Linked DNA regions of Homo sapiens. The protein of the gene in region 4 interacts with the protein of the main gene of each other region in a biochemical or structural test. Each region holds a gene or a part of one and is shown on either strand. Other genes may lie near its edges.

Region 1 (6,309 bases), on a different chromosome or scaffold from region 4:
GGAATGTGCCCAAATTTGGACTAGCTCATCTCATGGCTCTGGGGGTAAGTTTTGTGTATTTGGCATAAAAGGAGAAAGAGGGACTTAGGCCCTGAGCAGTACAAGAAAAGCAGCTAAGAATAAAAGGAATAACAGTGATGTCCCTTAAGCATGTTCCCCCAGAATCTGTCTCCAGGAAGGAGCTTCTAATGGAACAAGAAGCATTGACTGGTAGTAATCTCACAGGATTTTCCTTGTATTGCAGCTGGGTCCATGGCTGGCAGTGGAAATCCCTGATCTGATTCAGAAGGGCGTCATCCAACACAAAGAGAAATGCAACCAATGAAGAATCAAGCCACTGAGGCAGGGCAGAGGGACCTTTGATAGGCTACGATACTATTTTCCTGTGCATCACACTTAACTCATCTAACTGCTTCCCCGGACACCCTCCACCTCTAGTTGTTACTAAGTAGCTGCAGTAGGCATTGCTGGGGAAGAAACAAACACACACCAAACAGTACTGCTACTTAGTTTCTAAGGCTGCACAGGGAAGGGAAAGACTGGGCTTTGGACAATCTAGAGGTAATTTATATCCGCCCCCAGGTGGAGCAACATGCGATTCTGGAGGCACGGGGGTAACTGAAAGTGAGTACATATAGTCTTTCTGGTTTCTGGAGATAACCCATCAATAAAAGCTGCTTCCTCTGGTAGCCTGTGGTTCTCATTGGGAGCTGTTAACAGAGGGCAAGTGGGCTGAAACCTGAGGCACATGAACAGCTACGCCGGGTTGGGTTGGGAAAGAGTCGGAAATAGGGGATGCTCTGGTCAGGAGTGGGAATGAAATGTTGACTGTTCCCCCTGCTGCTCAGATCTACCTTTGTCCTTTAGTGGTGAGCCATGCTTTGCCCTACCGTGTTAGCCTGCAAGAAGTGGTTTTGCCGGACCAGCACTTCCCGCCCTCCAGGGATCTTCCCAGCCCTCTGTGAAGTGCTAGATGCTTCTCCACTGGTCTGCGGGCTGGACCCAGGCCTGCAGTTTGCCATACTTGCGCCCCTGCTGTTTGGGAAGGATCTGTGCTGTAAGCCTCGCGGCCATACTACGACTGTCAGATCTCCATCCCTATGGGCTATAGGATGGGGCGACGGCACCCTATACCTCAGGGACTTGCTTTGGAGTCATGGATTAAAGACCTCTCTGGGCAGCGTTGAGAACCAGCGACCCTAAACTTGGCTGCGTTTCCATGGTGTCGATCGCGGAGCCGTGGGGGCGGGCTCACGCAAGCGCCAAGGGACCGGTGGGAGGAGTTCGGGTGTGGATGCGCAGGCGCTTTGAGAGACGGTGAAGCCGGTGGCCGGTGGCCGGGCGGGACCAACAAAGATGGCGGCGGCCCCTGCGGCGGGAGCGATCTGGGCAACGGCTGCGGCTAAAGCTGCAGCCGGGCCCACGGGGGGGCTGCACGGGGGTAGTAGGGGGTGGCCCTGAACTGGGGCCTGGCCCTGGCTGGCCTCTCCCGCCGCCTCACTGGGGGACAGGTACGGGCCGGGGCGTTATGGCATGGCGGGGTGTGGGGGGGCGCAGAGGGAAGACTGCTCCAGACCCGAGAGGACACTCTCCACAAAGGCGCGTGGGGCCCGGCGGGGCCTGGGAGAACTGGGCTGGAGGGACAGCATCCCTGGACCGCGGGGAATACGCCGCCGGATTCCGTAGCCAATCAGCGGTCTCGGCCTTTCTGCCCTCGAGGGGGGCGGACCCGGCTAAAGCCCTGCTGTGGTGGGAGAAGTGCAGAGATTAAGGGTCAAGGAGTTGTTCGTCCTCCATCCCCGACTACTGCTTTCTGAACCTCGACACCATGTCGGAGGTCGGAGGTGGGGGAGGGAATGGATCGTAAGTCACCCATATAGTCTGCTTCATTTGCAGCCCAGAGAGGCAGGGATTCGAGGATGGAGGGCTGTCTTTTGGGCTGTTATTCTTGCATCTACACTACCATTTGGCTAGGGTCTTAAGTGACCCGAGGCACATCCTACTTTACTAGCCGGGTATGGGGTCCCATGTTACGTTAGAGCCGAGATAGGAGTTATCACTGGCTTTTCAGTAAAGATGTGTTCTGCAGGGAGGGGTCGGGAGTATAGAAAGGGTCAAAGCCATGGGCTGCTTATCTTTCATTCATTTGTTTACCCAATAGATACTAAGTATTTACTTTGTACCAAACACGATGCCAGGTACTGGGGATACGATGGCTGATTCGATAGATCTGGTTCCTGCCCTCAGTGCGTATACTGCTCCCCACTTTCGTTGATGTGGTAGTGGTGATGACTGAGCCAACCACCTAATGTGGAAATGAGAGGACAGCAAGATTGTGGGTATGGAATGGGGCAAAGCAATAAGGGAAAATTAGTGTGGCAGGGTTCAGTACAGCAGCCTGGGTTCCCATTTCCCCCCATATTCAAATGCTGACACTCTCTTCTCCTCCCAGGTCCAGCCTGTGGTGTCCACAATGCCCCAGGCCTCTGAGCACCGCCTGGGCCGTACCCGAGAGCCACCTGTTAATATCCAGCCCCGAGTGGGATCCAAGCTACCATTTGCCCCCAGGGCCCGCAGCAAGGAGCGCAGAAACCCAGCCTCTGGGCCAAACCCCATGTTACGACCTCTGCCTCCCCGGCCAGGTCTGCCTGATGAACGGCTCAAGAAACTGGAGCTGGGACGGGGACGGACCTCAGGCCCTCGTCCCAGAGGCCCCCTTCGAGCAGATCATGGGGTTCCCCTGCCTGGCTCACCACCCCCAACAGTGGCTTTGCCTCTCCCATCTCGGACCAACTTAGCCCGTTCCAAGTCTGTGAGCAGTGGGGACTTGCGTCCAATGGGGATTGCCTTGGGAGGGCACCGTGGCACCGGAGAGCTTGGGGCTGCACTGAGCCGCTTGGCCCTCCGGCCTGAGCCACCCACTTTGAGACGTAGCACTTCTCTCCGCCGCCTAGGGGGCTTTCCTGGACCCCCTACCCTGTTCAGCATACGGACAGAGCCCCCTGCTTCCCATGGCTCCTTCCACATGATATCCGCCCGGTCCTCTGAGCCTTTCTACTCTGATGACAAGATGGTGAGGACTTGCCACACACATGGCCTTCATGCCCATGTTCCTCTGTGCTTTCCTGCCATCCTCTGCCTTTTCTGTCCCCCATTTCCCTGAAGTTCCTTTCTCAGCCCTTCATTACAGCAGTTTGGACATGCCTCTCCCTTGCTTAAATACCCTTGAGCCTCCTAGACCCTTTTTTGGGTTGTTGGTGACTCTTCAGCATGGTGTGCCATTTCGGTCCCCAGGGGATTACCCCAACTATTTAGAATTCTTCTTTGGGTCCCCAGGCCCTTCCTTTCCCTTGCTTGCACCTTCTCTACTGGGACTCTGCCTAGGCCTAATTAATCTCTGGAGCTAAAGAGAGGCAGGCACAGAACATCTTAGCAAACGTGGTTGCACATTTTCTGAGCTAAGTAAGCTAGGCTGATTGCAATTGGAGCCAGCAGGAGAAGGGCAAGAAGGGGCCACGGGGGCAGGAGGGGGTTTTGGGGGCAGAAAGGTGGGAGTGGTGAGCAGCTGGGCAACCATGCCGGTGCTGGGGGAGTTGCCCCAGGAGCTGCAACGTCAGCTAGCTGAGCAGAGGAGTAAGTGGGCAACAGGTGGGACAGCCATGGCTGAGTCCGTGGTACATTCAGCTGTGATGGGCTTACTGCTCATGACCAGTGAGGTAGGGAGACTAGAATACCTAGTGAGGGGAATAGGGTAGAGTTTGGGGATGAAACATGCATGGGATGGGGGAGGCAGTGGGCAGCATGCTGTTGAAAGGTTAAAGTGCCAGGTAGGATATATAGGAACTTGCCGATTGTACTCTGACCTTCCAGGCTCATCACACACTCCTTCTGGGCTCTGGTCATGTTGGCCTTCGAAACCTGGGAAACACGGTGAGAGCTATTCTCCTATCTTTCCTCTCTAAAAGGAATGTGAAATGGTGCTGGGGGTGGGGAAAACCCACGAGCTTGGGGAAGGCATGTGGAAGGAGAGCTCTGAAGCTCTTCTAAGGCTTCCTGGGCAGTGGTCTGGAGAGATAACAGCAGTGTCCCTACTGCTCCCCAGTGCTTCCTGAATGCTGTGCTGCAGTGTCTGAGCAGCACTCGACCTCTTCGGGACTTCTGTCTGAGAAGGGACTTCCGGCAAGAGGTGCCTGGAGGAGGCCGAGCCCAAGAGCTCACTGAAGGTGGGGCAACAACTCCTGCTCCCTCTGTTCAAGTCCCTTTTTCCCCAACCACTTGCAGGTCCATCTGCCACTGGTGGTGGCCCCCAACCCTTAAATCTGGCAGTTGTATCTACTTTTCCCAGTGCCTACTTTCCTAAAGGTTATTTTCTACCCTCTGAGCCACCTTTTGCTTGCCTCTTCCAGACATTAACCTTTGTTTGCCTTCCCCACTCCCATCCCAACAGCCTTTGCAGATGTGATTGGTGCCCTCTGGCACCCTGACTCCTGCGAAGCTGTGAATCCTACTCGATTCCGAGCTGTCTTCCAGAAATATGTTCCCTCCTTCTCTGGATACAGGTGGGAGAGCTGGAGGCTATGGGATTTCTCTCTGGCCATGTCTGGGGGTAGGGCCAAGCAAGGGCCCTGGCAGCATTGTTCTGAGCCTTGAGATGTTCTTCATCCAGGAAGTGGGGACCAATATCTGGGCAGGGAATAGTGTCTGTGGACTAGGAGAGGAGTCAGTTGCCCATACTCTTTGTCTGGCTGTAGCCAGCAGGATGCCCAAGAGTTCCTGAAGCTCCTCATGGAGCGGCTACACCTTGAAATCAACCGCCGAGGCCGCCGGGCTCCACCGATACTTGCCAATGGTCCAGTTCCCTCTCCACCCCGCCGAGGAGGGGCTCTGCTAGAAGAACCTGAGTTAAGGTAAGGGTCGTTCCCTCTACCTCCTTTCCCCGTAGTTTATCAGCATCATTCACACTTCATAGAACTAAACTAGTAAAGATTGAAGATGTAGGGTCCAGGGAAACCCTTTAGTATAGAAAATAGTATGAGAAGCAACATAGAAGTAGAAGGAAGGAAGGAAGAGGGGGAGTCTAAGGGAGCAGATGGAGGCAGAAGATCATGCTAGGGATGTCACCAAATTGAAGAAGGGGATAATTCATTTACAGGTAGAGGAAGACAGCATATTCTTCCCTTATGTACATTCCTTTCTTTTCCTCTCACCTCGGATTTCCCTAGAAAGTTCATTGAGGCATTATTCTTTTGACTTTTCCTTGAAATTTAGGGAAGGAGCAGGGGTGTGGATGGGGAGTAGGGCTCTGTAGGTTGTTTCAGTGGGTGTTGGGGGTGCCCAGTGTTCCTGCTGTCTCATGGGTGCTCCCCACTTCCTTTGATCTGTGGTAGTGATGATGACCGAGCCAACCTAATGTGGAAACGTTACCTGGAGCGAGAGGACAGCAAGATTGTGGGTATGGAATGGGGCAAAGCAATGAGGGAAAATTAGTGTGTGAGGGGGGTACAGGCTTGGGGGGAAAAATCGATACTATCAAGGGGTATGGGAACAAGACTGGATGATGCAAATGTGAAGCTGTGTGAAGAGTTGATTAGGAGTGTTGGTAGTGGGAAAGGAAGGGTCAAGCAAAGGGGCAGGAAGAGATGGAAATCCAAGAAATCATCTCATAACATCCAACAATGACCTTTTCTCCTGTCCCTGTGCTTCTGTCTAGACCTGTTTGTGGGCCAGTTGAAAAGTTGTCTCAAGTGCCAGGCCTGTGGGTATCGCTCCACGACCTTCGAGGTTTTTTGTGACCTGTCCCTGCCCATCCCCAAGGTGGGATTCCAGAGGATTCCGGGGTGGACAGGACAGGGGCTCTGTGACCCAAGCCTACCCACCCCCAGAGTGTGGGCGGGAACCCTGTGGGTTTCTGGAGCAGAACTGAAGCCTGGATTGATTGAGAAGAGTTGGAAAAGGAAATTCAGAACATGTTGACCTTTCTTCCCCTTTTCCCCCAGAAAGGATTTGCTGGGGGCAAGGTGTCTCTGCGGGATTGTTTCAACCTTTTCACTAAGGAAGAAGAGCTAGAGTCGGAGAATGCCCCAGTATGTGGAGGTTCACAAGGGATACAGTAAGGGTGGGAGACCTGGGGGGACTCCATGTGGATAAAAGGGATTGCATGATGTCTTCATATGGGGAATAATATTTATGTATCTGGGTTTGTGTTGGAGTCTCAGATCTGTTCTAGTACTCCTAGAGCAAAGGGGAGAAGCCAAGAGGATCCAGCTGTAATGAAGAGCATACTAAATTTGTATGTGGATCGGGGTGTCA
Region 2 (5,677 bases), on a different chromosome or scaffold from region 4:
TAAATACATTATTTAATTTTCACATCAATTCCCAACTATAAAGTACTAACACTCCCATTAATGGAGGAGAAAACTGAGGCTCACAATCATTAAATAACTTGCTCCCCAGCCAGAAAGAATTGGAATTTGGTTCATCTGATTCTTACAACTCCATGCTTTAAACCTGCCACTATTTCACCAGAAGCTGAATTCTAGATTCTGCTGCTGAGTCAGCTGATAATGATTTCCATAATTTGCCTTATGTTCATTTAGAATAGAAAAATTTTAAGATAAAAATGTGATCTTACCTGCAAAGTATATCTGTTTTTGAAGCAGTTAGTTACCAATTCTCCTTTAGACAACTGATATAACCACGTCAATTTTCGGCCACTGTGGCGGCTGGCGTAGAAAGCTGTGAATCGCTGATAACTACGTTCCAACTAGATAAAAGGACAGCATTATATGGAATACAGATCTCACCACATCCTACAGGCAGCGTTTCTAAGTAAAGCCCACTGTTCCAAGCTTACAGTACAAAGTCAGTGCTTACATAAAAGTAAAATACAAACGCCAGGTGTCTGCCTCTCTTGTAAAGCACTTTAAGCACTGGAAGGTACAATCTTAAAAAAGGTTTGTACTTCAAGACCAGCAGGTCCATCGAGGTGTTCATTACACAACTAATTAGGTTCTGCTTTACAAGATAAGGAAACATGTCTGTAGAGCTGGGACAGACAGCCCACCTTTAGACATCCAGACCTGCCCCACTGCACAGGGCTCTTCCCTGAGTGTTGCCCCCATGGTTCACCGTGATGCAGCCAGCCAGCAGGAAGGCCATCTGCAGGCCTGTCCCCTTCCACAGTGAAGGCTGCCCTGCCCCACCCTCCACTTAGCACTAATGGGATGGCAGACAAACCCATCCTTACCTCTGACGGCAAGGCAAATGTACAAGACTGCTGGAAGGGCCAGGACCCGGAGCTCAGCACTTGAATGCTGAAATCCACTGTGGGACGGAAGAGAGGGGAGAGTGAACATTCTGGAATACATTAATTAGTTTATAAACTGAAAAATTCAATCATTTCAGATGAATGTGGATTGCTCTTTATTAAAAAGCACATTAAATAAAAATCCTGCTTGAATATAAAATTAAGAATTGAACATTTTATTCAATTAAAATTAGCAAAAAGTGCAAGAGCCAGATACTCTTTTCTTCCAAAGAGTGAGAGTCTTCATTTTGCTTCCACCTCGGAATTCTGCTGTCACACGCCTGCCCTGCTTCCCTTGCTTTCCTTTTCTGTCCTGAATCACTCAGTCCACTCAAGCCACGCCTGTGCTTGCCAGGCCCGGCATCATCACAGCCCCAGACTCATGCAAACTCACAAGCAGGAGAAAACCGCTAACTTCATTATAGTGTATGTTTCACTTATTACTGGGAAACGCCACACATGGTCTATAAATTATAACAGTAATTTCATCTTCGCAGATAGTTAAAAAGCCCACTGGCAAAACTGTCCAGTTTTACAATAGAATTGTCATTCTGATTTGGGAAAAATAAAATTCTCCATTTTTCATTTAAAAAGACAAAGATGATCAAAAGATGATGTAAGCATAAATCCGCCATCCTACTACTATGCAAGGCCCTAAAATACCAGCCCAGCTGCCTCTCCTGGAGAACTGAATCACCTGCACCTGCCTGTACTGATCCCTAATCCCAGTCTGAAGCCACAGGTCTTTAGCTTGACTGTTACCTATGCAGGCCAAGTGAACATTAAAATAAATGCTAGAATGGATCCAAGCTAAGGTTTACAAGACAAAACCACGCCTGTGAGTCCCTCCCCAGATCCCAACAGGTGGTGACCTTGCCCCAGTAGAGCTGACACCACTTCAAGGGTTGTCATCTCCTAATGTCACACGGGAGTCGGGGGAGGAGGGCTGGGCATTTGGGAGGAATCTCCCGCTTCTTAGTTCTTGAATTTCTGACAAAGCCCCTCCCATCTTCACCTAATATTTTGTCATTTCTTCATTTGCTACAGAGAACTCTGCCTGTAAACACAACATAGAGACACACGGATACTCACAGTCTAGGGGTTCTGAGTTTGTCAAGTGCTTTTTGAATTGCTCGTTCAGATCTTTGCTCACGCCAATGTCTTGAAACATGCGCTGAAGTTTAGAGGTGTACTCGAACCCGCAAGCTTGCTGAGAAGAACCCAGATGACTGTCTTATTAATTTGTACAAAAATACAAATGTATACAAGGGAATCTTAGAGAAATCAGAGTATACAATATATACTTAATTATATGGAACTACTAGCAAAGCTAGTAACATTTTGCTATATTTTACAGTACAAATATGCATGGATTAATATTAATACACTGTCAAAAAACCCCACAACTCTATGTTGCACAGTGAAGTGTTCACACACACAATTCATACACAATTTGTGAGCATTTAAGAGCAAGGTGTCCTGACACTGGTAGAATACAATGATGAAATAATCTGTCTCTATCTCTTACCAGAAGCTGAACTGTGTGCCCCCAAAATCCCTATGTTGAAGCCCAAACCTCCAACGTGATGCTGTGTGGAGGTATGCGGTCTTGAGCATGGGGCCTCACAATGGGATTGGTGTGCTTGTAAGAGATGTGCAAGAGCTCTGCACTCTCTCTCTGACACGTGAGGCACTGCAAGAAGGTGGCTGCCTACAAAGCAGGAAGAGGGCCTGCACCAGGAACCGAATCAGCTGGCACCCTGATCTCGGACTTGTGGCCCCCAGAATTGTGAGAAACTATTTCTGTTGTTTAAGCTACCTGGTCTATGGTATTCCGTCATGGCAGCCCACGCTGACAAAGATACCTACATAATTTGGGGCCAAAGTAAAGTATGTCCCAAGTCAGATAAGAGCACTCGACAGCGCCGACACACAGGCACGCAAAGGAGGTGGCAGAGGAAGGGCTGCGTGACAGCAAAGTAACCAAGCCCAGAGCAAACAAAACCTCCACTCAGCTCCAGGCCAGCACAGTGTGGAAGTGTGAATGTGCTGCAAGGCTAAAGGTGTGGGAGGCAGGAGAGGCCCCACAGATGGTGAGCTGAGCCCAGCCAGGCCTGGGTAGGATGGAAGCCCCACAGTGGGGTGGGGAAGGGGTTGGGAAGGCACCGGGGCCCAACGAGAGTAGAGTGATAGTTGTGGGAGGCTTTCAGAAGAGCAGTGGCAGAGCTTCTTGTACAAACCACTGCACAAACTCCTCTGCCTGCCTCATAACCTGGAGAGACTAAGAGCTTTTTTATTTTTTTCTGAGACAGAGTCTCACTCTGTTGCCCAGGCTGGAGTGTAGTGGTGTGATCTCGGCTCACCGCAACCTCTGCCTCCCGGGTTCATGCCATTCTCCTGCCTCAGCCTCCCAAGTAGCTGGGACTACAGGCGCCCACCACCATGCCCGGCTAATGTTTTGTATTTTTAGCAGAGATGGGGTTTCTCCATATTAGCCAGGATGGTCTCGATCTCCTGACCTCGTGATCTGCCCGCCTCGGCCTCCCAAAGTGCTGGGATTACAGGCATGAGCCACCGCGCTCGGCCATAGAGCTGTTTTAATAATGACTCAGAAGCTGGGATTTTTCAGGAAAAGATGAAACTCACCTTTAACTTGGAGATCATGCTGGCTTCGGCATCGTCACTTGCACTGTTCTGGTGGACGAGCCTCTTGGCGAGCATCTTCGCATAGAACTTCTGAAATACGTCTTTGTCTTCTATGTACTTGAAGACAACCATCTGGCAAAGCCACCGAGACAACACACTTAACCAGCACACACACAAGCCAACAGTGCAGAGCTGACTGTCACCGGCCACAAGCCAGGAGCCAAGATGTGCCTTTGGCTTTGGGCAGGTCTGTACGCCAACGTTTATGATGGCAAAATCTCCACTCCAGAGTCTTGAAAGTTTTGTGAGTCCCTTAATTCAGTGAGTTGGACTGACTGAGTATTAATGAGAAAAGTATGAATGCTAAAAGTAGTAACTCAATTTAGGAAGTAAAACCAGAGATTCAAAATAAAATCAATGATTATTACTTTTCACATTTCAGAGGCCATCTACAAATAACATTACAAACAGCTTGTGAAATACACAGCTACTGGAAATGGGTATGCTCATGAAGCACTTACCACTTGATTGAGTGTGTCTTCTAGTTCTGCCTCCTCTGGGTTCTTGGAACTGAAAATTTTAAAAAGATACCATGTTTTAAAACATCAGTACGTTTAAACAAGCACCACTTAGCCAGAATGCAGCTTCAAGCATTCAAAAGATCAGTTCTCATCAGATTAGTGCAGAGGAAGAGGGAAGGTTGACTTTCCTTACCTACAGCAAACTGGCAATCTCATACTGTAACCTCAACACTGAAGAACAGATTATGAAGTAGTCATTTAGAATATCCAAGGTGAAAACCAACAGGAGATATTTATAAAACATTTCCAAAAACATTCTGAAGAAGTTTGCCTTTAAGATAATCCACTTAAACTTCAGTAAAGGAAATTCACTTTACCAATTGCTTTCTAGTCTGCTGTAATTTAACTTTGGAGAAATAAAAAGGCACATAGATTCCCTTTCATGGCCCAGTCATTAAAGATGATGAAGGGGTTTAAATTCCTACTAAACTGCTGCCCTCTGTAGTTGTATATACAAGAGATGATTGTCCTTTAACAACTGATTCATTCTATGAACAAATAATAATTCAAAGGTGAATTAAAGGTAGATGAATTTTTGTACAGGTCTTTTCTACAAGACTGCTTTATAAACAAGACCCCCTAATTCATATAAAACGAATCAGCCACCACAGAAACTCTGAAGAGGTGTCTCCAACTTTAGAAAAGTTGGTTCAGAAAACCCAACCCTATTCTTGGCACTCTTGGGTCAGGGGTGTTCCTCTTCCCTTGGAGCAGTTTAACTTAGTGCCTCCCTGACTCCACTCACCCAACACACGCTCATTAAAGAGGTGCTGTGGAAATGTCTCTGCCATTCTGTCTGCATCAGTGGCCTTAACTAGTATCAGTAGACTTGACGAGGGACATTTATGAAAAGACAAAGGATAAAAAGGACACTAAGGCCAGGTGTGGTGGCTCACACCTGTAATCCCAGCACTTTGGGAGGCTGAGGCGGGTGGATCACTTGAGGTCAGGAGTTCGAGACGAGCCTGGCCAACATGGTGAAACCCTGTCTCTACTAAAAAAAAAAAAAAAAAAAATTAGCCGGGTGTGGTGGCACGCCTGTAGTCCCAGCTGCTCAGGAGGCTAAGGCATGAGAATCACTTAAACTCAGGAGGCAGAGGTTGCAGTGAGCCGAGATTGTGCCACTGCACTCCAGCATGGGCGACAGAGTAAGACTAAGTCTCAAAAAAAAAAGGACACTAAGTGTTCTGTCAAACAAACTGAATGAAGACCCAGTGGAGTATCTCCATAGTCATAACATGCAGCCCCCTAAAATGAAACCAAGTCATCAGAGGCCTTCCAATTTAAAGTCCCCTCTCATTTCTGGAGAGGATCTGATCGCAATTGTTAAATTACACATTAAACCAGGAATAAATACTCCTGTTTATTGCAATAAACAGGAAAAAAAAATCAAACACTCAGAGTTTCTCACTGGCCTTGGGTAAACTGCGTTAAGAGAAAGCTATTGACCTTCATCAAATGTTTTCCCATCATTTACCAAAAAGGTCA
Region 3 (5,677 bases), on a different chromosome or scaffold from region 4:
GTTTATTTTTATTAGCTATTTTATATTTTATTCCCATATTTATTTTGTCAATGTAGAATTGTCTGGCACTTACCACATTCTCAAGAGCAGGAGATTATAAAGTTTGTCTTCAGTATTGTTTCGTGGTACAGCCATAAGAAAGGGCTGACCAAAAAGTGAAGAACCAGTATGGTGGGTATAACTCGAGTGTCTGAATTTTTCTCTTAGGCAAACAGGAATAATCACGTGCTCTGTATCTTCTGTCCTATTGATGTTAATTTCAAACCTACAAGGACAAAACTGACCATAAACTCTCAAAATTTTATGTTACTTCTATTAATTTTTTTTCAAGTAATATTTTGCACAATGAGTTTTATACTTACACATAAATATCATCCCGTTCCATAATACTACTAAGGTTTTCATCCATAGCGAATATTCTGTGAAATCTATGATTGTATATATCAGTAACTATCATCTAAAAGGAAACGAATTTCTATTAAGCTGGTTTTACAGCACTGAGAAACTAAATACCAACTTATATACTTCAACCCCAGAAACATCTTACCTTATCTGCAGGTATTCCTGACAAAGCAGACAATGCTGTACAAAGATCTAATATGTTTCCAATTTTGGGGACAACCACTTTGTACTAAAAAACAAAAAAAATTGTAATGAATTTATTATTTTGGAAAAAAAATTCAGTAAATGAGAGTGACCTCATGGTTGCTATCTCACATTCATTTGGCATTTGGATTAGTGTTTGTCTCCAATCTTGCCACTATCCTGGGTCCTGTGTGACAATGCCCACATGGATAATTTGTCCTAGTTTTATCATTCCTTGGCTCCTCAATTCAAAGACACTTGCATTAATTCAACCTCAGTCAACTTATTAGATCCTGTCATTACTTGAAACTGCTCCCACTTTTGCTATCTTTTTTTGTTTGTTGTTTAGAGACAGGCTCTCACTCACTCTGTTGCCCAGGCTGGAGTGCAGTGGCATGATCTTGGCTCACCGCAGCCTCAACCTCCCGGGCTCAAGCCATCTTCCGAATTCAGCCTCTTGCGTAGCTAGGACTACATGCGTGTGACACCATGACTGGCTAATTTTTATTTTTTAGAGACAAGGTCTCATTATGTTGCCCAGAATGGTCTCAAAATCCTGGATTCAAGTGACCTTCTGCCTCAGTCTCCCAAAATGCTGGGATTACAGGACTGAGCCACTGCACCCGGCCCCACTTTTAGTATCTTAAACTCGGGTTACTGTCTAACCACTACTTCTTGCTTCTCCTGGAAATTCATTCTTATCTCTTCTTGTCTTGCACAGAGATTTCTATTCCTTTTAACTCTTGTTTTCTCCCAGTTTACCAGCTCCCTACTGTCTTCTAGCCCTTCCATCCAGGCCCTACATGCTTTATCACGAACCTTTAATGTCTTTGTTACTCAATTCTATTCATTCCACTCTTGCTAAACTTTCTCAGAGCTGTTCACATGTGCTGAAGAGAATTTCCCAATTTTAGAGGCTGGTGTGCTACAAATCCACAGTGCCCAATATCAATTGATCCTTTGACAGTACTCAGAAATAATTCTGCATATCACACATGTGGTTATTCTCTCATTTATCTCAATAACTATTTAAAATCTTCATTGGGCTGGGCCCAGTGGCTCACGCCTGTAATCCCAACACTTTGGGAGGCCAAGGCAGGTGAATCGCTTAAGCCCGAAAGTTCGAGACCAGCCTGGATAACATGGCAAAACCCTGTTGCTACAAAAATACAAAAAATTAGCTGGGCTCGGAGGCGCACACCTGTAGTCCCAGCTACTTGGGAGTCTGAGGCGGGAGAATCCCTTGAGCCCAGGAGGCGGAGGTTGCAGTGAGCTGAGATCACACCCTAATGTACTCCAACTTGGGTGACAGAGCAAGACCCTGTCTCATTAACAAAAAAAAAAAAAAAAAAAAAAAAATCTTCACCATTCTTTAGGCTTCCTATTTCACTACTGCTCCCTTAATATCAGCAGAATACCTATTTCATCTCAAAAACAGAAACTACTGGGTGGGAAAATCTCCAACTTCCTGTTCTACTAACTTCTTTGAATCCACATAGGTACTTTTCTGTCTCTTGCAACACATGGAAAGAAAGATGTCTCTCTTCTTATTCAAAGCTAACCTTAGCGTCTATGTTCTAAATCCCATGCTCTTCTGCTTTCTCTGGGACCTAAACCAAGCAATTATTCTTTCTTCCATTTTATCTCAACTCTTGCATAAGCATTGGAATATAAAGTCTCTCAAAAAACAAGGGTACCTCATTGCTTTCCCTCTAATTATCTCCCCTTCTCCTCTATTTTATAAATAACTTTATTAATGATATCTATATTATCATAACTTCCTTATCTCCCATTTACTTCTCAACCCTCTTGCTGGCTTGTCTTCGCCTCTTTATTTAACTTGTTTCCAAGGTTGCCAATAATGTTGTACAACTTATCAGTCTTTATTTTATTGACCTCTTTGTAATATGACTGCTGACCACTTTCTCCTTAAAAAATTCCCTTTCCTTATAACACGACTACTTTTAATTCTTTTCTATTGCTGTGATCATATTCCTCTTTTGAAGTTCTCCTACATTGTTCTTTAGAGTGTTGTCTTTAGCCTTCTTCTCAATTTTATATGCTCTCCTTGGAAGAGGCAACAGTGTCTCCTGATTTGCTTTGGCCAGTCCTGGATTAGCCTGCTATCCTAGTATAATTATTAATGACAGTCCCTTCTATTTTCAAGAGTTCTTGTTTAGATGATAAATCACGGGGTCACCTTAGCCTTAAGTAATCTCATCCTTCTAAAACACTATCATTTTCATAGAGCTGATTGTCCAATTTATAGCTAAAGCAGTCTCTCTCCTTTGGTCTAGATACACAAATTCAATGCCTACTGGATATCTCTACCTAAGTGTTCCTCATGCATCTGTAAGTCAGCATATCCAATACTAAACACAGGTTTGGGTCATGTTAGGCCACCACGTTCAATACTAAAATGGATTCCTTCTTCAACTTGTTCTTCCTATATATTCCACTAAAACAGCACTGCTGTCTCCTCTTTTCCTGTCAAGTAAACTTGGCATCATCTTTGAATATACTTACACATTTTCACTTCCTACATTCAACTGGTTCTTCAAACTGCCATCCTGACAGAGTTGAAGTGTTTGTCATTTGTCTGTCGTCTGATCATTAAAAGCTTCTTACCTGGTCTTAGTACTAAGCCTTTTCTAACTGATCTCTGTGCTACCCAGAATCATCTTTCTGAAACATAATTGTGGCCATATAATATCTATACTTAATAGTCTTTAATGGCTTCCCTAGTTTTTAGGATGAAGTTCAAACTTCCTATACTGGCATCAAAGTTCTTCGTGATCTAGCTCCTGCTTGCCATATTAACTACTGTAGATTACAGAAGTGGGCCATGTCCTCTTCTCCCATAAGTTCTTTGTACATGCCATTATCTTGGCCTATAATGCTTTTATTTCTAGTTTTCACCTGCTTATAACCTAATTGTCCTTCAGAATTTATCACAGGCCTCATAACCAGTTTGGGTAGGTTACTCTGTGTTCTCTTGCAGCACCCTGTCAGAGCAATTTTCACACTGTATGACAAGCTTCTTGAAGAACAAGGACTAGAAACACCATTATATTTCTAGCACCTTGCACAGCATAAGAGCCTAAGATATAATATATATTCAATATTTTTCCTAATAAGCTTCCATGACCTAAATCAACTTCAATGACGGGAAAACTCAACAAATAGGGAAACTCAGCTAATTTCACTTTTCTTACAAGCTGGTCAAAGCATAGTGTTAATGAAATGAGGTGATCATTTTGTATTTGAGTTGTTACTGCCTCTAAATGGAAAAAAGGAAAAAAAAAAAACACAAAACACAAAAACAAACGAATTTCTCTGTGCTAACCATGGCTCTAACCTCCGCAAATTTATATTATTGGTCACCAAATGAGAAAAGTGATAAGTCAATGAAATTCACATTGCTGGAAAAATAATTTAGAGCCCAATTTATGGAAGAGCACTTATCATATACCTTATGGACTAATGTGTAAATTAATGCAATTTGCCACTATTGATATAGATTACCTTATATTATTGGCATGGGAGAATATTATCTCTAACAAATGTGCTGTAGAGAAATAAAACATCTACATTTATTTTTTGTTGCAGTAAATTTATACTTATTATTCTACGCTCTCTTGCTCCATTACACTCATTGGTGTATATCTGCAAAGTTATAAACTAGAGAGGTAAGGATGTGGTTTGGCACTGTTATAGTTTCTCACCATTGAAAAGAATGTTGACAATCTTGTACTTATAAACGAGTGAATAAGTGAATATCTAAAGGATATAACTTTAAAAATGTGAACACATATTCCCCAGGCCAAAAGTAAAAGCAGGTCTTTATTGGCTCTGCTCACAGATAAGGGATAGTACTTAGCACTCTCCAGTGAAATACTGATATGAGGGCATTGTGTTCAATGAGTTCATAAAGAAAACATAAAGCAGCAGAAAAACAAATTGCTTAAATTTGCATAACTGAGTACATACCTAGTATCTACTAGACTTTAATTACTTTGAATAAAAGGACTGTGTGTTTATGAACACTACATATACCCTGTCTTTGTTGACAATAAACCCAAATACATCCCTGAATGGTAAGATCATAATTTTGTTCAAATATAGCTTTCATATAGACATCGTGACTATTATGCACTAACAAACTGAGCTATTTGGCTAAAAATTTACAGAAAACAATCTTCTAAAGCAGGAATCATATCTTTTTTGTTTAGCCAAAGAGCTTTATACTTAGTAGGTGCATAGTTAAGTATCTTGATGAATAAAATTTTTGAATACTTCTTGTGCATTAATATTTACCAGCCACAAAAGCTGGAAATACAAAGGTTTACAAGGTCTCTGTCTTCAAAGACTTGTAGTCTAGGGATAAAAGATAAAAGTAAGCCAAAAGTTATAACAAAATTAGTTAAGTGTTAGAATTTAGGGAAAGAGAGGTAGAAAAAGAAGAAGTTACTTTCACTGGGATGGGTCAAGTGTCAGAAGAGGATTAACTGATTAATAAATAAGGGAGAAAAGATAGTGCTTTACCCACAAAATATAAATAATCCAATTATAACACTAGGTAACGGAATCAGGCAGACAATTTGACAGTAAGACTTACCACAGGACTTTTGCACAGAATAAACAATATGTGATACTTCAAAGTATTAGAAATTAGAGAACATCACTGAACAAAATATTTTTAGTCTAACTGAATTTCTACTTTCTTTTAAGTTCCTAAAATGCCTAAAAATTACAGGTATTTAAATACACTACTATCACACTATGAATTAAAAGTATTAGCTTTACTTCCAATAGCCACTAGTAAAAAAAAATTACAATTAACACTAAAGAAAGTTGAAGTTTAAAAAAATTAAAAATATTATGTTGATCTTCATAAGCTAATATTCACCCCAATATTATAAAAATAAACCTCTATAAAAAGCCTTTTGAGAATTTTTTATAAGACACACGTTGCTCTTTCAAGACTGTAAAAAGTTACACTGATTTCCAAAGTATTCAGCTTATAAAATCTCTTATACAAATAAACATTATTGATTGGGCTTGATAATTCAATACTTAATTTTTATAATAA
Region 4 (5,677 bases):
TATTAATTCTAATGGCCTCTCCACACCTGACCCTCACTCCTAGTCATTTCAAAGTTTGCAATTGTGTAAAGTCATTTCTCAGAAAATTTGAAGCAAAACAAAGTCACCACAAGAAAAACTTGGTATACACCAGGTTTATATTGAGGACAAAAACTGTGACACAATTACAAATGGAACTTTTTTTTTTTTTTTTGTGATGGAGTTTTGCTCTTGTTCCCCAGGCTGGAGTGCAGTGGCGTGCTCTTGGCTCACCACAACCGCCACCTCCTGGGTTCAAGCAATTCTCCTGCCTCAGCCTCCCGAGTAGCTAGGATTACAGTTGTACACTACCACGCCTGGCTAATTTTGTATTTTTAGTAGAGACAGGGTTTCTCCATGTTGGTCAGGCTGATCTAGAACGCCCGACCTCAGGTGATCCACCCGCCTTGGCCTCCCAAAGTGCTGGGATTACAGGCATGAGCCACCGCACCCAGCCTACAAATGGAACTCTTGAGGTAGAAATGGTAGACCAGGAATAAAATTATTTTCATGGTCAATGACACCTTAGCCATTGATAGCTGTGCCTAGTTACAGAGCAATAAATGGAGAGCCTTGGTGTTAGATGAAATCCTAAAAAGTCACCTGTTTTATCTCCTTGGCCCCAGACAGAATAAAGTGGAATTTATAGCAGTAGAGTTACCAAGCATCATCATCACACCAAGTAGGTTTTGTACTTTGAGAGCTGAATTCCTCTCTGAAATATTGATGTTACAGGAATGTTGTTTAAATTCATAGCTCATTTATAAAATTGAGAATATTTCTTACATTTATAACTGTGTTGTGTTTTCCTGAGTTTTTCAAGATATGTTTCACTTCTGTACTTTGCTCACTCAGGAAAAATATTTATTTATTAAAACTCTAGCTTGTCAGGCACTGAAGTTAGAAGGATGAGTAAAATCTAATCTGTGTACTCAAGAGGGTTATATAATAAATCTTGATGGTCATTCTTACATGCCACATTATACAGATCTCCAGATGGCTTAGGCTTAGTTTTAAAAGGAAACGTTTTAATTGGGGGGAAATTGAAACCCCAAAAAAAAGCCATGAACTTCCTTCCTGGAAATATTTTTGCCATAAAAAGCATATTTGGTCTTGGATGTGATTCTTTTTGTGAAAGTGCAAGTTGAATCAGACATTAGAAGTTGGACATAATCTTCTAATTTTAGTAAACATCAAATTATTTTTAAATATTTGTGTTTGAACATTTATGGAAAAGAGATTAGATTTACCTGTTTTATCCAGAGGACAGAAGTAAGACTCAGAAGTTGAAAAAATGGAAATATTTTATGTCATTATAAGAGTGGGAACTGGTACATCTTTTATTCCTCTTCAATATGGAAATCACTGTATTTACTAATTATGTGTTCATTATTAAAAAAGGGGGAAAAATTAAAGCACAATATCAAAAGGTAGAAGGAAAAAGGCAAAAAAGTATTAATCCTATTTCTTAAAATGATATTTACACTTGATGGATATCGTTCTTGATTATTTTTCTGTATATTTTTATCATATACAGATGTTTATATCAAAGCATATTATGAACATTTTTCTTTTAATAAATTTGTATTGACAATATTATATTTAATGGCTGAAAACTATTCCATCGTGTGGAAACCCTGTTGTTTAATTTACCAGTCCTTTTTTGAACTCCAGATTGTTTCCAGTTTTTCTGTTACAAATACTGCCATGGTGAATATCTTGTTGAATTTTTGCACACATTGTTAATGTCTCCCTTAAGTTAAATTTCTTAAAGTATAATACCTACATATATAAATTTCTTAAGAATTCCAATATAATGGCAAATTACCCTTGAAAAAGCTTGCATGTATGACAGTCCTATCAAAATGGGGCATCATTTACTCATTTCCCATAATCTCTCAGCAATGCTAATTATTATTAGTTTTCTTCACCTTTGCTAACTTGACAGGTAAAAAAATGAAATTTTATTTTAACTTACATTTATTTGATTACTACTCTGATGTCCAGTGTCTTTTCATGTGTTTATTGACTAGTCATGTAAGTGTATTAACTAATATTTTCTAACAATTTTTTTTTTACTTTTTAACATTTAAATTTGTATTCTATCTAAAATATAATTTGATGTAAGGTATGAGGTAAAACTCTTTACTTTTTTAATCAAATAATTAACAAGTTGTGCCAATGCTACTTATTAAAAAATCCAGCAAGCATATCCCATACTTCAATATACAGATAATAAAGTACTGATAGATATTCCTCCAAAAAAAAGAAAGACTATTTCGTGGTTAAATAAGTTTGGGAAAAGATCATACGAAAAAAAGTTAAAATTTTTTATCGCCAAACTCTCGTTAGCCTCTAGTGTGTGTGTGTGCATTAGGAGTTAGCATTTCCTAATTTAATTAACCATGTAATCTTTTTTCTTTTTTATTTATTTATTTATTTTATTTATTTATTTTTTTGAGATGGAGTCTCACTCTGTCGCCCAGGCTGTAGTGCAGTGGGGTGATCTCGGCTCACTGCAACCTCTGCCTCCCAGGTTCAAGCAATTCTCCTGCCTCTACCTCCCAAGTAACTGAGATTACAAGTATGCACTACCATATCCAACTTGTTTTGTATTTTCAGTAGAGATGGGGTTTTGCCATATTGGCCAGGCGGGTCTCAAGCTCCTGACCTCAGGTGATCTGCCTGCCTTAGCCTCCCAAAGTGCTGGGATTACAGGTGTGAGCTATTTTTTTTAACCATGTAATCTCACTTCATAGGTATTTCAGGAAATACCTATGAAAGCCTGTGGAACTGAGCTGTCCAGTATACTAGCACTAGCCACATGTGGCTATTTAAATTTTAGTTAATTAAAATTACTCAGTTCTTCAGTCACACTGACCATATTTCAAGAACTCAATAGCCACAAGGGGCTAGTGGCTACTGTATTGAACATTTTGCAGATAAAAGAAAATTTCCGGGCCAGGCACAGTGGCTGATGCCTGTAATCCCAGCACGCTGAGAGGCCGAGGTGGGTGGATCACAAGGTCAGGAATTCAAGACCAGCCTGGCCAAGCTGGTGAAACCCTGTCTCTACTAAAAAACTACAAAAAATTAGCCAGGCACAGTGGCAGTTGCCTGTAATCCCAGCTACTCGGGAGGCTGAAGCAGGAGAATCGCTTGAACCCAGGCAGCAGAGGTTGCAGTGAGCCGAGATTGCGCCACTACACTCCAGCCGGGGCGACGGAGTGAGACTCCATCTCAAAAAATAGGAAAATTTCCGTCACAAGAAGTGCTATTGGACAGCACTGCTATGGGAACATAATGTTCAGTGGAACACGTGAACACGCTGAAAACACTGGAATAATCCATAATTTCTCCTGATTTGTCAGGCAAACATGATTACTACTACACTATGAGAACAGACTCTCTCATTGATTTGTAAAGACTCCATCATCATATTTAAAATTTCTAATCTACATATGATTTTTTTATGCTATTGATTTATCTACTTCTGCTCCAATACCACACCCCTAGTTTTAAGTCAAGGTTCTGCACCTTTCTCTTTCAGAGCAGAAATGAAGAATTCTTGCATGGAGTAGGAAATTAGATTAGAAGTGATAGTAAAGGCGCTTTCACTTCCCAGACTCTAAATGTAAACATTTCTCTGCCGAACTTGATTTATATTATGTTGAGCTGTATACTCAATTACTTATTCATTTATTCTACAATTATTTATTGAGTACCTGCCTGGTAAGCACTGTTTTAGGTCCTGGGGTTAAAATGGCAAACAAGGCAGACAAGGCCCCTCGTCGTCTTATTTTCATAGAGCTTACATTCTTGTTTTGGAGAGGGAAAGAGAAGAGGCAGGGGGAGGAAAAAAGAATATGAACCAATAAACAAATAAATTAAAAAACTATCACATAGTAATCAGTGCTATTCAAGGAATTGAAATTAGAGTGATAGTAACTGGTGGCCTCTTTGTTTTGGCTGCCCTGAGACCTCTGTGACTTAGTGGCATTTAAACTAAGATCTGTCCAAAGAAGAAGCTAATTACTAGAAGGTCCAGGCAGAGCTAGTACCACCCTCAGGAGGGAAAAAGCTTGGTGTATTTGAGGAGTAAAAAGAAAGTCTTTGTGGCTGGGTCTTAGTGGGCAAGCAGGGAAATAATAGGAGATAAGGTTGGAGAAATAGCTGAAGCCACATTTTCATGTAGGGTTTTGTAAACTAGGGTAGGGAATTTTCATTTTTTTCTGAGTATGATAGCTACTAGAGACTCCTAAGCAGGGAACAGACCTGGCCTAATTTAAATTTTTAAACAATTATTTTGATGGAGAATTTATTGGCACAGTCAGTAGTGGAAATAGGAGACCTGTTAGGCTAGGTCAAGAAAGAAATGGTGATAGATTTGACTAAGGTGATAGTAGTGAAGATGGAAAGCATTGGACAGATTTAGAACATTTAGGCTATAGAATCAACAGGACTTGTCAATTGGATGTGAAGTGTGAAGACAATAGAAAACTCTGGGATGAGCCTGGGCAACATAGTGAGACCCTGCCTCTATAAAAAAAAATATTAATTAGCCAGACATGGTGGTATGCACGTATAGTGCATATAGCTACTTGGAAGGCCAAGGTGGGAGGATCACTTGAGCCCATCAGTTAAAGGCTGCAGTGAGCTATGATTGCACCACTGCACTCCATCCTGGGCAACAGAGTGAGACGTTTTCAAAGAAAGAGAGAGGGAAAGGGGAGAGGGGAGAGAGGGAGGGGAGGGGAAGAAGAAAAAACAGAGAGAGAGAGAAAGAAAAAAACTAACTCTTGGATGATGTCTGTAATCCATTATATAGTAACCAGGTTCAATTTTCAGTCTGATTATGGCAGGCAAAATTGGGACACATAAGACACCAATAAATATATTTTAACCAAATGAATAAATTTACTTTAATAAATGTTTCTCTCCTGTACACATTTAAGCTGCTAAAGCATAAGCTTGTGCTCATTCCTTTATTATTAGGGAATCTGACTCCTAAGAATTTGAGGTTTATGTCATAAACACATCAGCTATAGGTAATTATTAGACTGTTCCCCTGAAGTATCCAAGCCAACAGAGGAGACTGAATGAAACAGAAAAAATTGCCTGCCACAGTTGCAAAAGTTCTGTGAGATTCTCATATTTTATTTTTAAATTTCATGCTGATTTTGCATTTTATGCCCAAGTTTATGTTAATAATTAAAATATTTTTAGTTGCTGATTTAAATGTTTTAAGTCAATGATTAAGTGGTTTAGCTCTTTCCCCTAAAGTTGGTCAAATTAAAGCTCTAGGAAGATGCCCTGTGATTAACTTGTGTTTGTTTTTTGGACTTTCTTTGTTGCTATCTGCTGGCACATGGGCATGTATCCATTTAGAGAAGTACAGATGCATCTCTGAGCATTTGTAGTTTGGTACAACTTAAAATCGTAGCCAAAGCGAGTGAGGAAGGCAATAGCATTTAGAAACAACTGACTTTTATAATCTGCACTTACTTTGTAATGTTTTTAAAAAACATACCTGAATGAGGCTGTTTCTCTCTTTTTATTTTTTTAAGGAATGCTTACTGAATAATTAGAAAAAAATGAGTAAAGGTCACAATTCTGGAATAGTATGTTTTCAGTAAAACAGATTTATCTGGAGTACTAC
Region 5 (5,677 bases), on a different chromosome or scaffold from region 4:
TTAACATCCTCTGAACTAGAGATAAAATTAGGAAGCTCAGCTGCACTGCTATTCCTTAAAAACATTACTTTAGAGGTTCTAACTATGCAATACAGGAACAGACTAAAGAGGTATATTGAAAAGGTGCAGACAAAACGATCATTATTTGTAGATGAGCTGGAAAATCCAAGAAAATCAACAGAAAAACTTTCAAAGCTAAAGAGTTTTGTAAAGTGGCTGGAAATAAAATAAATATACAAAGACAAATAGCATTAATACATACATTCTGATAAAAACCGTCAGAAATGTAAAGAAAAAAGGTCCCCTTTATAAGATATCAGCATTTCATTAGCCTGTCTTGCTTAAAACTCTAGTGGTTTTCCAAATGCTTCATGGATCTGAGCCATCTTCAGAGGGTCCAGCTGTGGCTCCCTGATCAGGCCTGTCTGGCTCAGCTTCCCCTTTTGGCAACGATGCTGCAGCCAGAGGCCTTCTTTCAGTTCCTGAGCAAAGCTAGTCACTTCTTCAGGAAAGCGTTGGCTGACGACAGTATTTAATTAGACTCTCCTGCACTTCTCTATCCTAACATTTTCCTCCACTCTTACAAGTTAGTCAATGTGTGTGATCCTCTGCTACCTCTCTGCTGGAAAAGACTGAACACTCCTAGAAACAAGGACTTATTCTTTATTGTTAATGGATGAATTCTCAGTGCTTCACAGAGGACCTGGGCCACCACAGATGCTCAATAAGTATTTGTTGAATGAATGAAAATTTATGACTAGCAAGAAATATGCAAGACTTACAGAAGAAAACTAGAAAGCTCTGAGAAAAAGATTTGTATGTATTTACATATATACACATATGTATGAATCACAAGATTTAATATGATAAAGATAAAAGCTCTGTAAATTAATGCAATATGGATTAAAAATGTCAATGTTCTTATTTGGGGGAGCAAAGGCGTGATACAATTATTGTCAAGTTCATTGGAAGAATAAAGTTATAGGAATAGCTACATTAATTAAAAGAACCTGGTGCCGGGCACGGTGGCTCACGGCTGTAATCCCAGCACTTTGGGGGGTCAAGGTAGGAAGACTGCTTGAGCCCAGGAGTTCAAGACCAGCCTGGGTAACATGGCAAGGCCTCATCTCTACAAAAAATACAAAAATTTAGCTGGGCGTGGTGGCATATGCCTGGGGCTGAGGTGGGAGGATCGCTTGAGCCCAAGAGGTTGAGGCTGCAGTGAGCTATGATCACACCACTGCACTCCAGCCTGGGCGACACTGTCTCAAAAAACAAAACAAAACAAAACAAAAAAAATGGCTGGCTATGAAATAGACACAGAATTTATAGAAGAGAATTGAGAAACTGACCTATATGAATTTGATACATAATAAGGTGATAATTCAAATAACTTGTTCAAGGATGATATTTTAAATTTGGTTTTGGAAAGGATGGGGGCAGTTAGACTGTTTTCAGATACTAAAATAATTTCTGCAACATGAAAAGAAAGATTTAAATGTAAAAACTTCTAGAAAAATAACATAGTATAAATGTTTTTTAAAACTCTGGTTAAGGGAATTTCTCTCTTAGGCCAATGATATGGTTTTGAATATGTGTCCCCTCAAAATCTCATGCTGAAATGTGGTCTCCAGTGTTGGAGATGGGACCGGGTGGGTGGGGGCAGGTCCCTCATGAATGGCTTGGGCCCTCCCCTTGGTGATGAGATCTGGTCGTTTAAACATGTGGGGCACCTCCCTCCCTGTTCTTGCTCATGCTTTTGCCACGTGAGACACCTGCTCCCCTTGCACCTTCCACCATGACTGGAAACTTCCTGAGGCCTCGTCAGAAGCTGAGGTGATGCTGGCACCATGCTTCCTGTACAGCCTGCAGAACCGTGAGCCAATTAAACTTCTCTTCTTTATAAATTACCCAGTTTCAGGTATTTCCTTATAGTAATACAAGAATGGCCTAATACAGCATTACACGTTAAGTCAGAAACCATAAAAGAAAAGGAGACTATATTTGAGAACTTAAAAACTGTTATGTGAAAAAAAAACCAATAAAAACAACAAAATTATCTGTCAAAAATGACAAAGCAGGCTGGGCATGGTGGCTCACGCCTGTAATCTCAGCATTTTGGGAGGCCGAGATGGGTGACTCACCTGAGGTCAGGAGTTTGAGACCAGCCTGGCCAACATGGTGAAACCCCGTCTCTACTAAAAATAGAAAACTTAGTTGAGTGTGGTGGCACATGCCTGTAGTCCCAGCTACTCGAGAGGCTGAGACAGGAGAATCGCTTGAACCCGGAGGACGGAGGTTGCAGTGAGCGAGATTGTACCACTGCACTCCAGCCTGGACGACAGAGTGAAATGCAAAAAAAAAAAAAAAAAAAAAAACGAAAAAAAAAAAGGGACAAAGCATTAATATCCTTAATATATAAAGAAAACCTACTAATCAGTAAGAGAAAAAACATTATAATGAATGCATATGACTTGAAAAGCAATTAGAAAAAGAAAAATACAAATGGCTAAGCATAAAAAGAGCAGCATCAACATGTATGAAGTGCTTACAGGTGTGTGGCAAAGAGCTTTCTAAACGATTCATTTAATTCTCACAACTTGAGGTAGTAGTATGTCTATTTTAAATATGAGAAACTGAGCATTAGAAAGATTATATAATTTGTATAAACTACTGAGTGGTAGAAAGATGCTGTAAAGAATCAGAAATCAAAATGAAAACTGCAACAAACTATCTTTGGGCTGCTCAGAACAGGGTGAGCGAAGGACAGGTGGAGGTGGGGGCAGACACTGTGCTCTGGTGAAATCTGCCAGACTTCAACTTGGAAAAGAGCAAACTAAGACAAGTACACATTATTTTACCCAGCAGCTCCAGAGCAAGAATCACACTAAAGAAACAATCTAACAAGTGCACAGAAATGTCTGTGCCAGGGTGTTGAACGTAATCTTATTTTCAGGAGGGGCAGTGGAGGAATGTTAGTGCCTGTGGCCGAGGGCACTGCCAGCCCTGGTGGGTCTACACAACCGGCACTGTGCTCCTGCAACAAGTCCTGGCCAGGAGAAGACTGCGATCAGCAACGAAAACTGGCTACAGGAAGGCCCTGACAGGTGCCATATGTACAGTGATCCCAGGTGTTTTTTCTTTTGTAGAGTTTGGGGTCTCACTGCATTGCTCAGGCTGGCCTCAAACTCCCGGGATCAAGCGACCCTCCCGAGTAGCTGAGACTATGGGTGCATGTCACTGTGCCTGGCTTAGTGATCCCACTAAAAAAAAAGTTTACATACACTCACACCACAGAAAAAGGCTGTGACCACAAACAAAAAGGGCAGTAGTGGTTACCTTCGGGAGAAAGAACTGATAGACCTTCTCACTTTTGCCCACTATAAAAGGTGCACCCTCAAAGGAGTTAAAAACTTAAGTCCACATAAAAACCTGCACAGAAATGTTTATAGCAGCTTTAGTCATCATCACCAAAACTTGGAAACAACCAGATGTCCTTCAGTAGGTGAAGGGATAAGTTGTGATGCATCCAGACAACGGAGAATCCTTCAGTGCAAAAAGCAGAGTTACCCAGTCATGAAAAGACACGGTGAACCTCAAATACGTTCTAATAAATAAAGAAGCCAATCTGAAAAGGCTATATACACTATGACTCCAACTGTACGGCATTCAGGAAAGGGCAAAACTATGGTGACAGTAACAGGGTCAGGGGTTGCCAGGGGCTCGGAGGGAGACAGGGATACAGCGACAGAACATAAGAGAATTTTTAGGGCAATGAAACTGTCCTGTATGATCCTATAATGGTGGATACATAACATTATACATTTACCCAGACCCACAGAATGTACAACACCAAGAGTGAACCATATCAGATTCTATTACCATAGAAAGTGTGGATAATTTTCGAAACCCTATGACCATGGGGAGTTCTGGCTTAGCACACAACTTTTTTGTGAATAGGAATAACATTAAGTGGCTTTTTTTCTGATTTTCTTTCCTACTGAGAATGTGAAGTTAATGAAAGCGACAGGAAAATGAGTACTCTTATAAACATTACATAGTGAAATTGGATTATTGTAGAAATGTGCTTCAGGCCTCTAACAGCCAAAAACATTACTACAAAAACAAATGATTCCCTGCTAAACCCCCTATAAGTAAAAAGAGAAAGTTTATACATACAGTTTCCTTCATCTGAATTTGATTGATCTTTATTCTAAACAACTTGTGCTTGAACTCTCCATTAAAAATGAACTTGTCTCCATCTTCCACTTCCTTTCCTTTGGGACTTTTAATCAGCACACGTGCTTTGCCACAGGCCAGGGACTGCAGCGTTCTGCGCAATTCACTATCCTCTGAATGGGAAGCAAATGCAGGCAAAGGCTGGCGTTAAACGAATGAGACTCAACAACAGTAAACCAATCATGCTACCAAGTCTATGTCTTATCTTAAAACAAATACATGCTTTAAGAACAACTCATGGAGCTATGCACTCTGCAGTTTTCGTACCTATCCCCGTGGCCATTTTTATCTCCTCAAAGCTGAAGCCATCTCCCTCGTTGAACATGAGGAGCACCAGTGTCTGGAAGAGGGACACCTGGAATTCCTTCTTCCCCTGGAAGAGAAGGCCTCATCACACCTCTGAAGCTGTGCATGTACAATCTTTGAAAAATTAAAAGAAGCTTCTTTTTGCTCTCAAACTTTTTTTTTTTTGAGAAGGAGTCTCGCTCTGTCACCCAGGCTGGAGTGCAGTGGCACAATCTCAGCTCACTGCAAGCCCCACCTCCCGGAATCATGCCATTCTCCTGCCTCAGCCTCCCGAGTAGCTGGGACTACTGGTGCCTACCAAGCCCGGCTAATTTTTTGTATTTTTAGTAGAGATGGAGTTCCACTGTGTTAGCCAGGATGGTCTCGATCTCCTGACCTTGTGATCCACCCACCTCGGCCTCCCCAGGTACTGGGATTACAGTCCAGCTTTCTTTTATACGGGACTGACTGTAACGTAGGGGTGAATGCAATTTGGCCTTATATATCCCAGGATGATCTCCTTTTCTATTCAGGAGTTAGTGCTGCAGCAACTTGCCACATGCCTCCAGGTCAGACCCACGAGAGGCACATGAGAGTTTGGGTGACAGTTGGTGGCCCCCTCTGCGGACCCAGCCCAGACTCATCACAAGCCCATAACAAGCCCTTCCTGCACACCTGGAGAGAGCTGCAGTTGGTGGTGCTGGTACAGACCCTGTGGAGGTCAAGTTCAACTAAAGTCAGCAAGTAGGTAAAAAACTGGGGATAATAGAAATTAACTTTCCTAATACCTTAAGGAAGAGAATATATGGTTTCATGTATATGACTCTCTACAATAATAAAGTAGGTATGTATAACTTATTTGATAATGTACAGATAAGTTTATTATTAATATAACAGCTATACAAAATAGGAATTTTATGTTTTTGCTTAGTGTATATAATTGCCGTTTCATAAGCGCCTTTCATTGATCAGTGCATTGTATGCATTCTCCCCTCTTAAATAATCGCTCATAATAACAGCACTGCAACCACTATTCTCATTCATTAATCCGTGAAAATGTCTTATTAAGATGAGTTCCTAGAGTTGAAACTAAGGCAACAACTCGGCAGCAGGGTTGCCAAAGTTCACAATGCCAAACTGCCCTTCCAAAAGC

The links.
Region 1: of the proteins of SENP8 (region 4) and USP21, one has a biochemical effect on the other in vitro, tested with the Homo sapiens proteins (one large-scale study listed by BioGRID).
Region 2: of the proteins of SENP8 (region 4) and CUL1, one has a biochemical effect on the other in vitro, tested with the Homo sapiens proteins (2 studies listed by BioGRID).
Region 3: of the proteins of SENP8 (region 4) and USP15, one has a biochemical effect on the other in vitro, tested with the Homo sapiens proteins (one large-scale study listed by BioGRID).
Region 5: of the proteins of SENP8 (region 4) and CUL4A, one has a biochemical effect on the other in vitro, tested with the Homo sapiens proteins (one study listed by BioGRID).

The regions. Positions count from the first base shown.
Region 1 is NC_000001.11:161,158,168-161,164,476, forward strand, and holds the start of USP21 (ubiquitin carboxyl-terminal hydrolase 21), read left to right. Parts: upstream 1-1,332; 5' UTR 1,333-1,511; exon of another isoform or gene 1,512-1,533; coding exon of another isoform or gene 1,534-1,599; exon of another isoform or gene 1,600-2,198; 5' UTR 2,199-2,339; exon of another isoform or gene 2,340-2,452; coding exon of another isoform or gene 2,453-2,473; coding exon 2,474-3,073; intron 3,074-3,870; coding exon 3,871-3,930; intron 3,931-4,102; coding exon 4,103-4,223; intron 4,224-4,447; coding exon 4,448-4,559; intron 4,560-4,751; coding exon 4,752-4,907; intron 4,908-5,387; coding exon 5,388-5,452; intron 5,453-5,710; coding exon 5,711-5,814; intron 5,815-5,996; coding exon 5,997-6,083; exon of another isoform or gene 6,084-6,089; intron 6,090-6,309. Other genes in the region: UFC1 (ubiquitin-fold modifier-conjugating enzyme 1), read left to right, coding at 1-44, 245-325. UniProt on the Homo sapiens protein: Deubiquitinates histone H2A, a specific tag for epigenetic transcriptional repression, thereby acting as a coactivator.
Region 2 is NC_000007.14:148,785,052-148,790,728, reverse strand, and holds part of CUL1 (cullin-1), read right to left. Parts: intron 4,179-5,677; coding exon 4,130-4,178; intron 3,741-4,129; coding exon 3,609-3,740; intron 2,173-3,608; coding exon 2,055-2,172; intron 980-2,054; coding exon 903-979; intron 420-902; coding exon 288-419; intron 1-287. UniProt on the Homo sapiens protein: Core component of multiple cullin-RING-based SCF (SKP1-CUL1-F-box protein) E3 ubiquitin-protein ligase complexes, which mediate the ubiquitination of proteins involved in cell cycle progression, signal transduction and transcription.
Region 3 is NC_000012.12:62,384,385-62,390,061, reverse strand, and holds part of USP15 (ubiquitin carboxyl-terminal hydrolase 15), read right to left. Parts: intron 632-5,677; coding exon 548-631; intron 458-547; coding exon 363-457; intron 280-362; exon of another isoform or gene 266-279; coding exon 74-265; intron 1-73. UniProt on the Homo sapiens protein: Hydrolase that removes conjugated ubiquitin from target proteins and regulates various pathways such as the TGF-beta receptor signaling, NF-kappa-B and RNF41/NRDP1-PRKN pathways.
Region 4 is NC_000015.10:72,123,365-72,129,041, forward strand, and holds part of SENP8 (sentrin-specific protease 8), read left to right. Parts: intron 1-5,677. UniProt on the Homo sapiens protein: Protease that catalyzes two essential functions in the NEDD8 pathway: processing of full-length NEDD8 to its mature form and deconjugation of NEDD8 from targeted proteins such as cullins or p53.
Region 5 is NC_000013.11:113,253,628-113,259,304, reverse strand, and holds part of CUL4A (cullin-4A), read right to left. Parts: intron 4,613-5,677; coding exon 4,507-4,612; intron 4,353-4,506; coding exon 4,180-4,352; intron 1-4,179. UniProt on the Homo sapiens protein: Core component of multiple cullin-RING-based E3 ubiquitin-protein ligase complexes which mediate the ubiquitination of target proteins. As a scaffold protein may contribute to catalysis through positioning of the substrate and the ubiquitin-conjugating enzyme.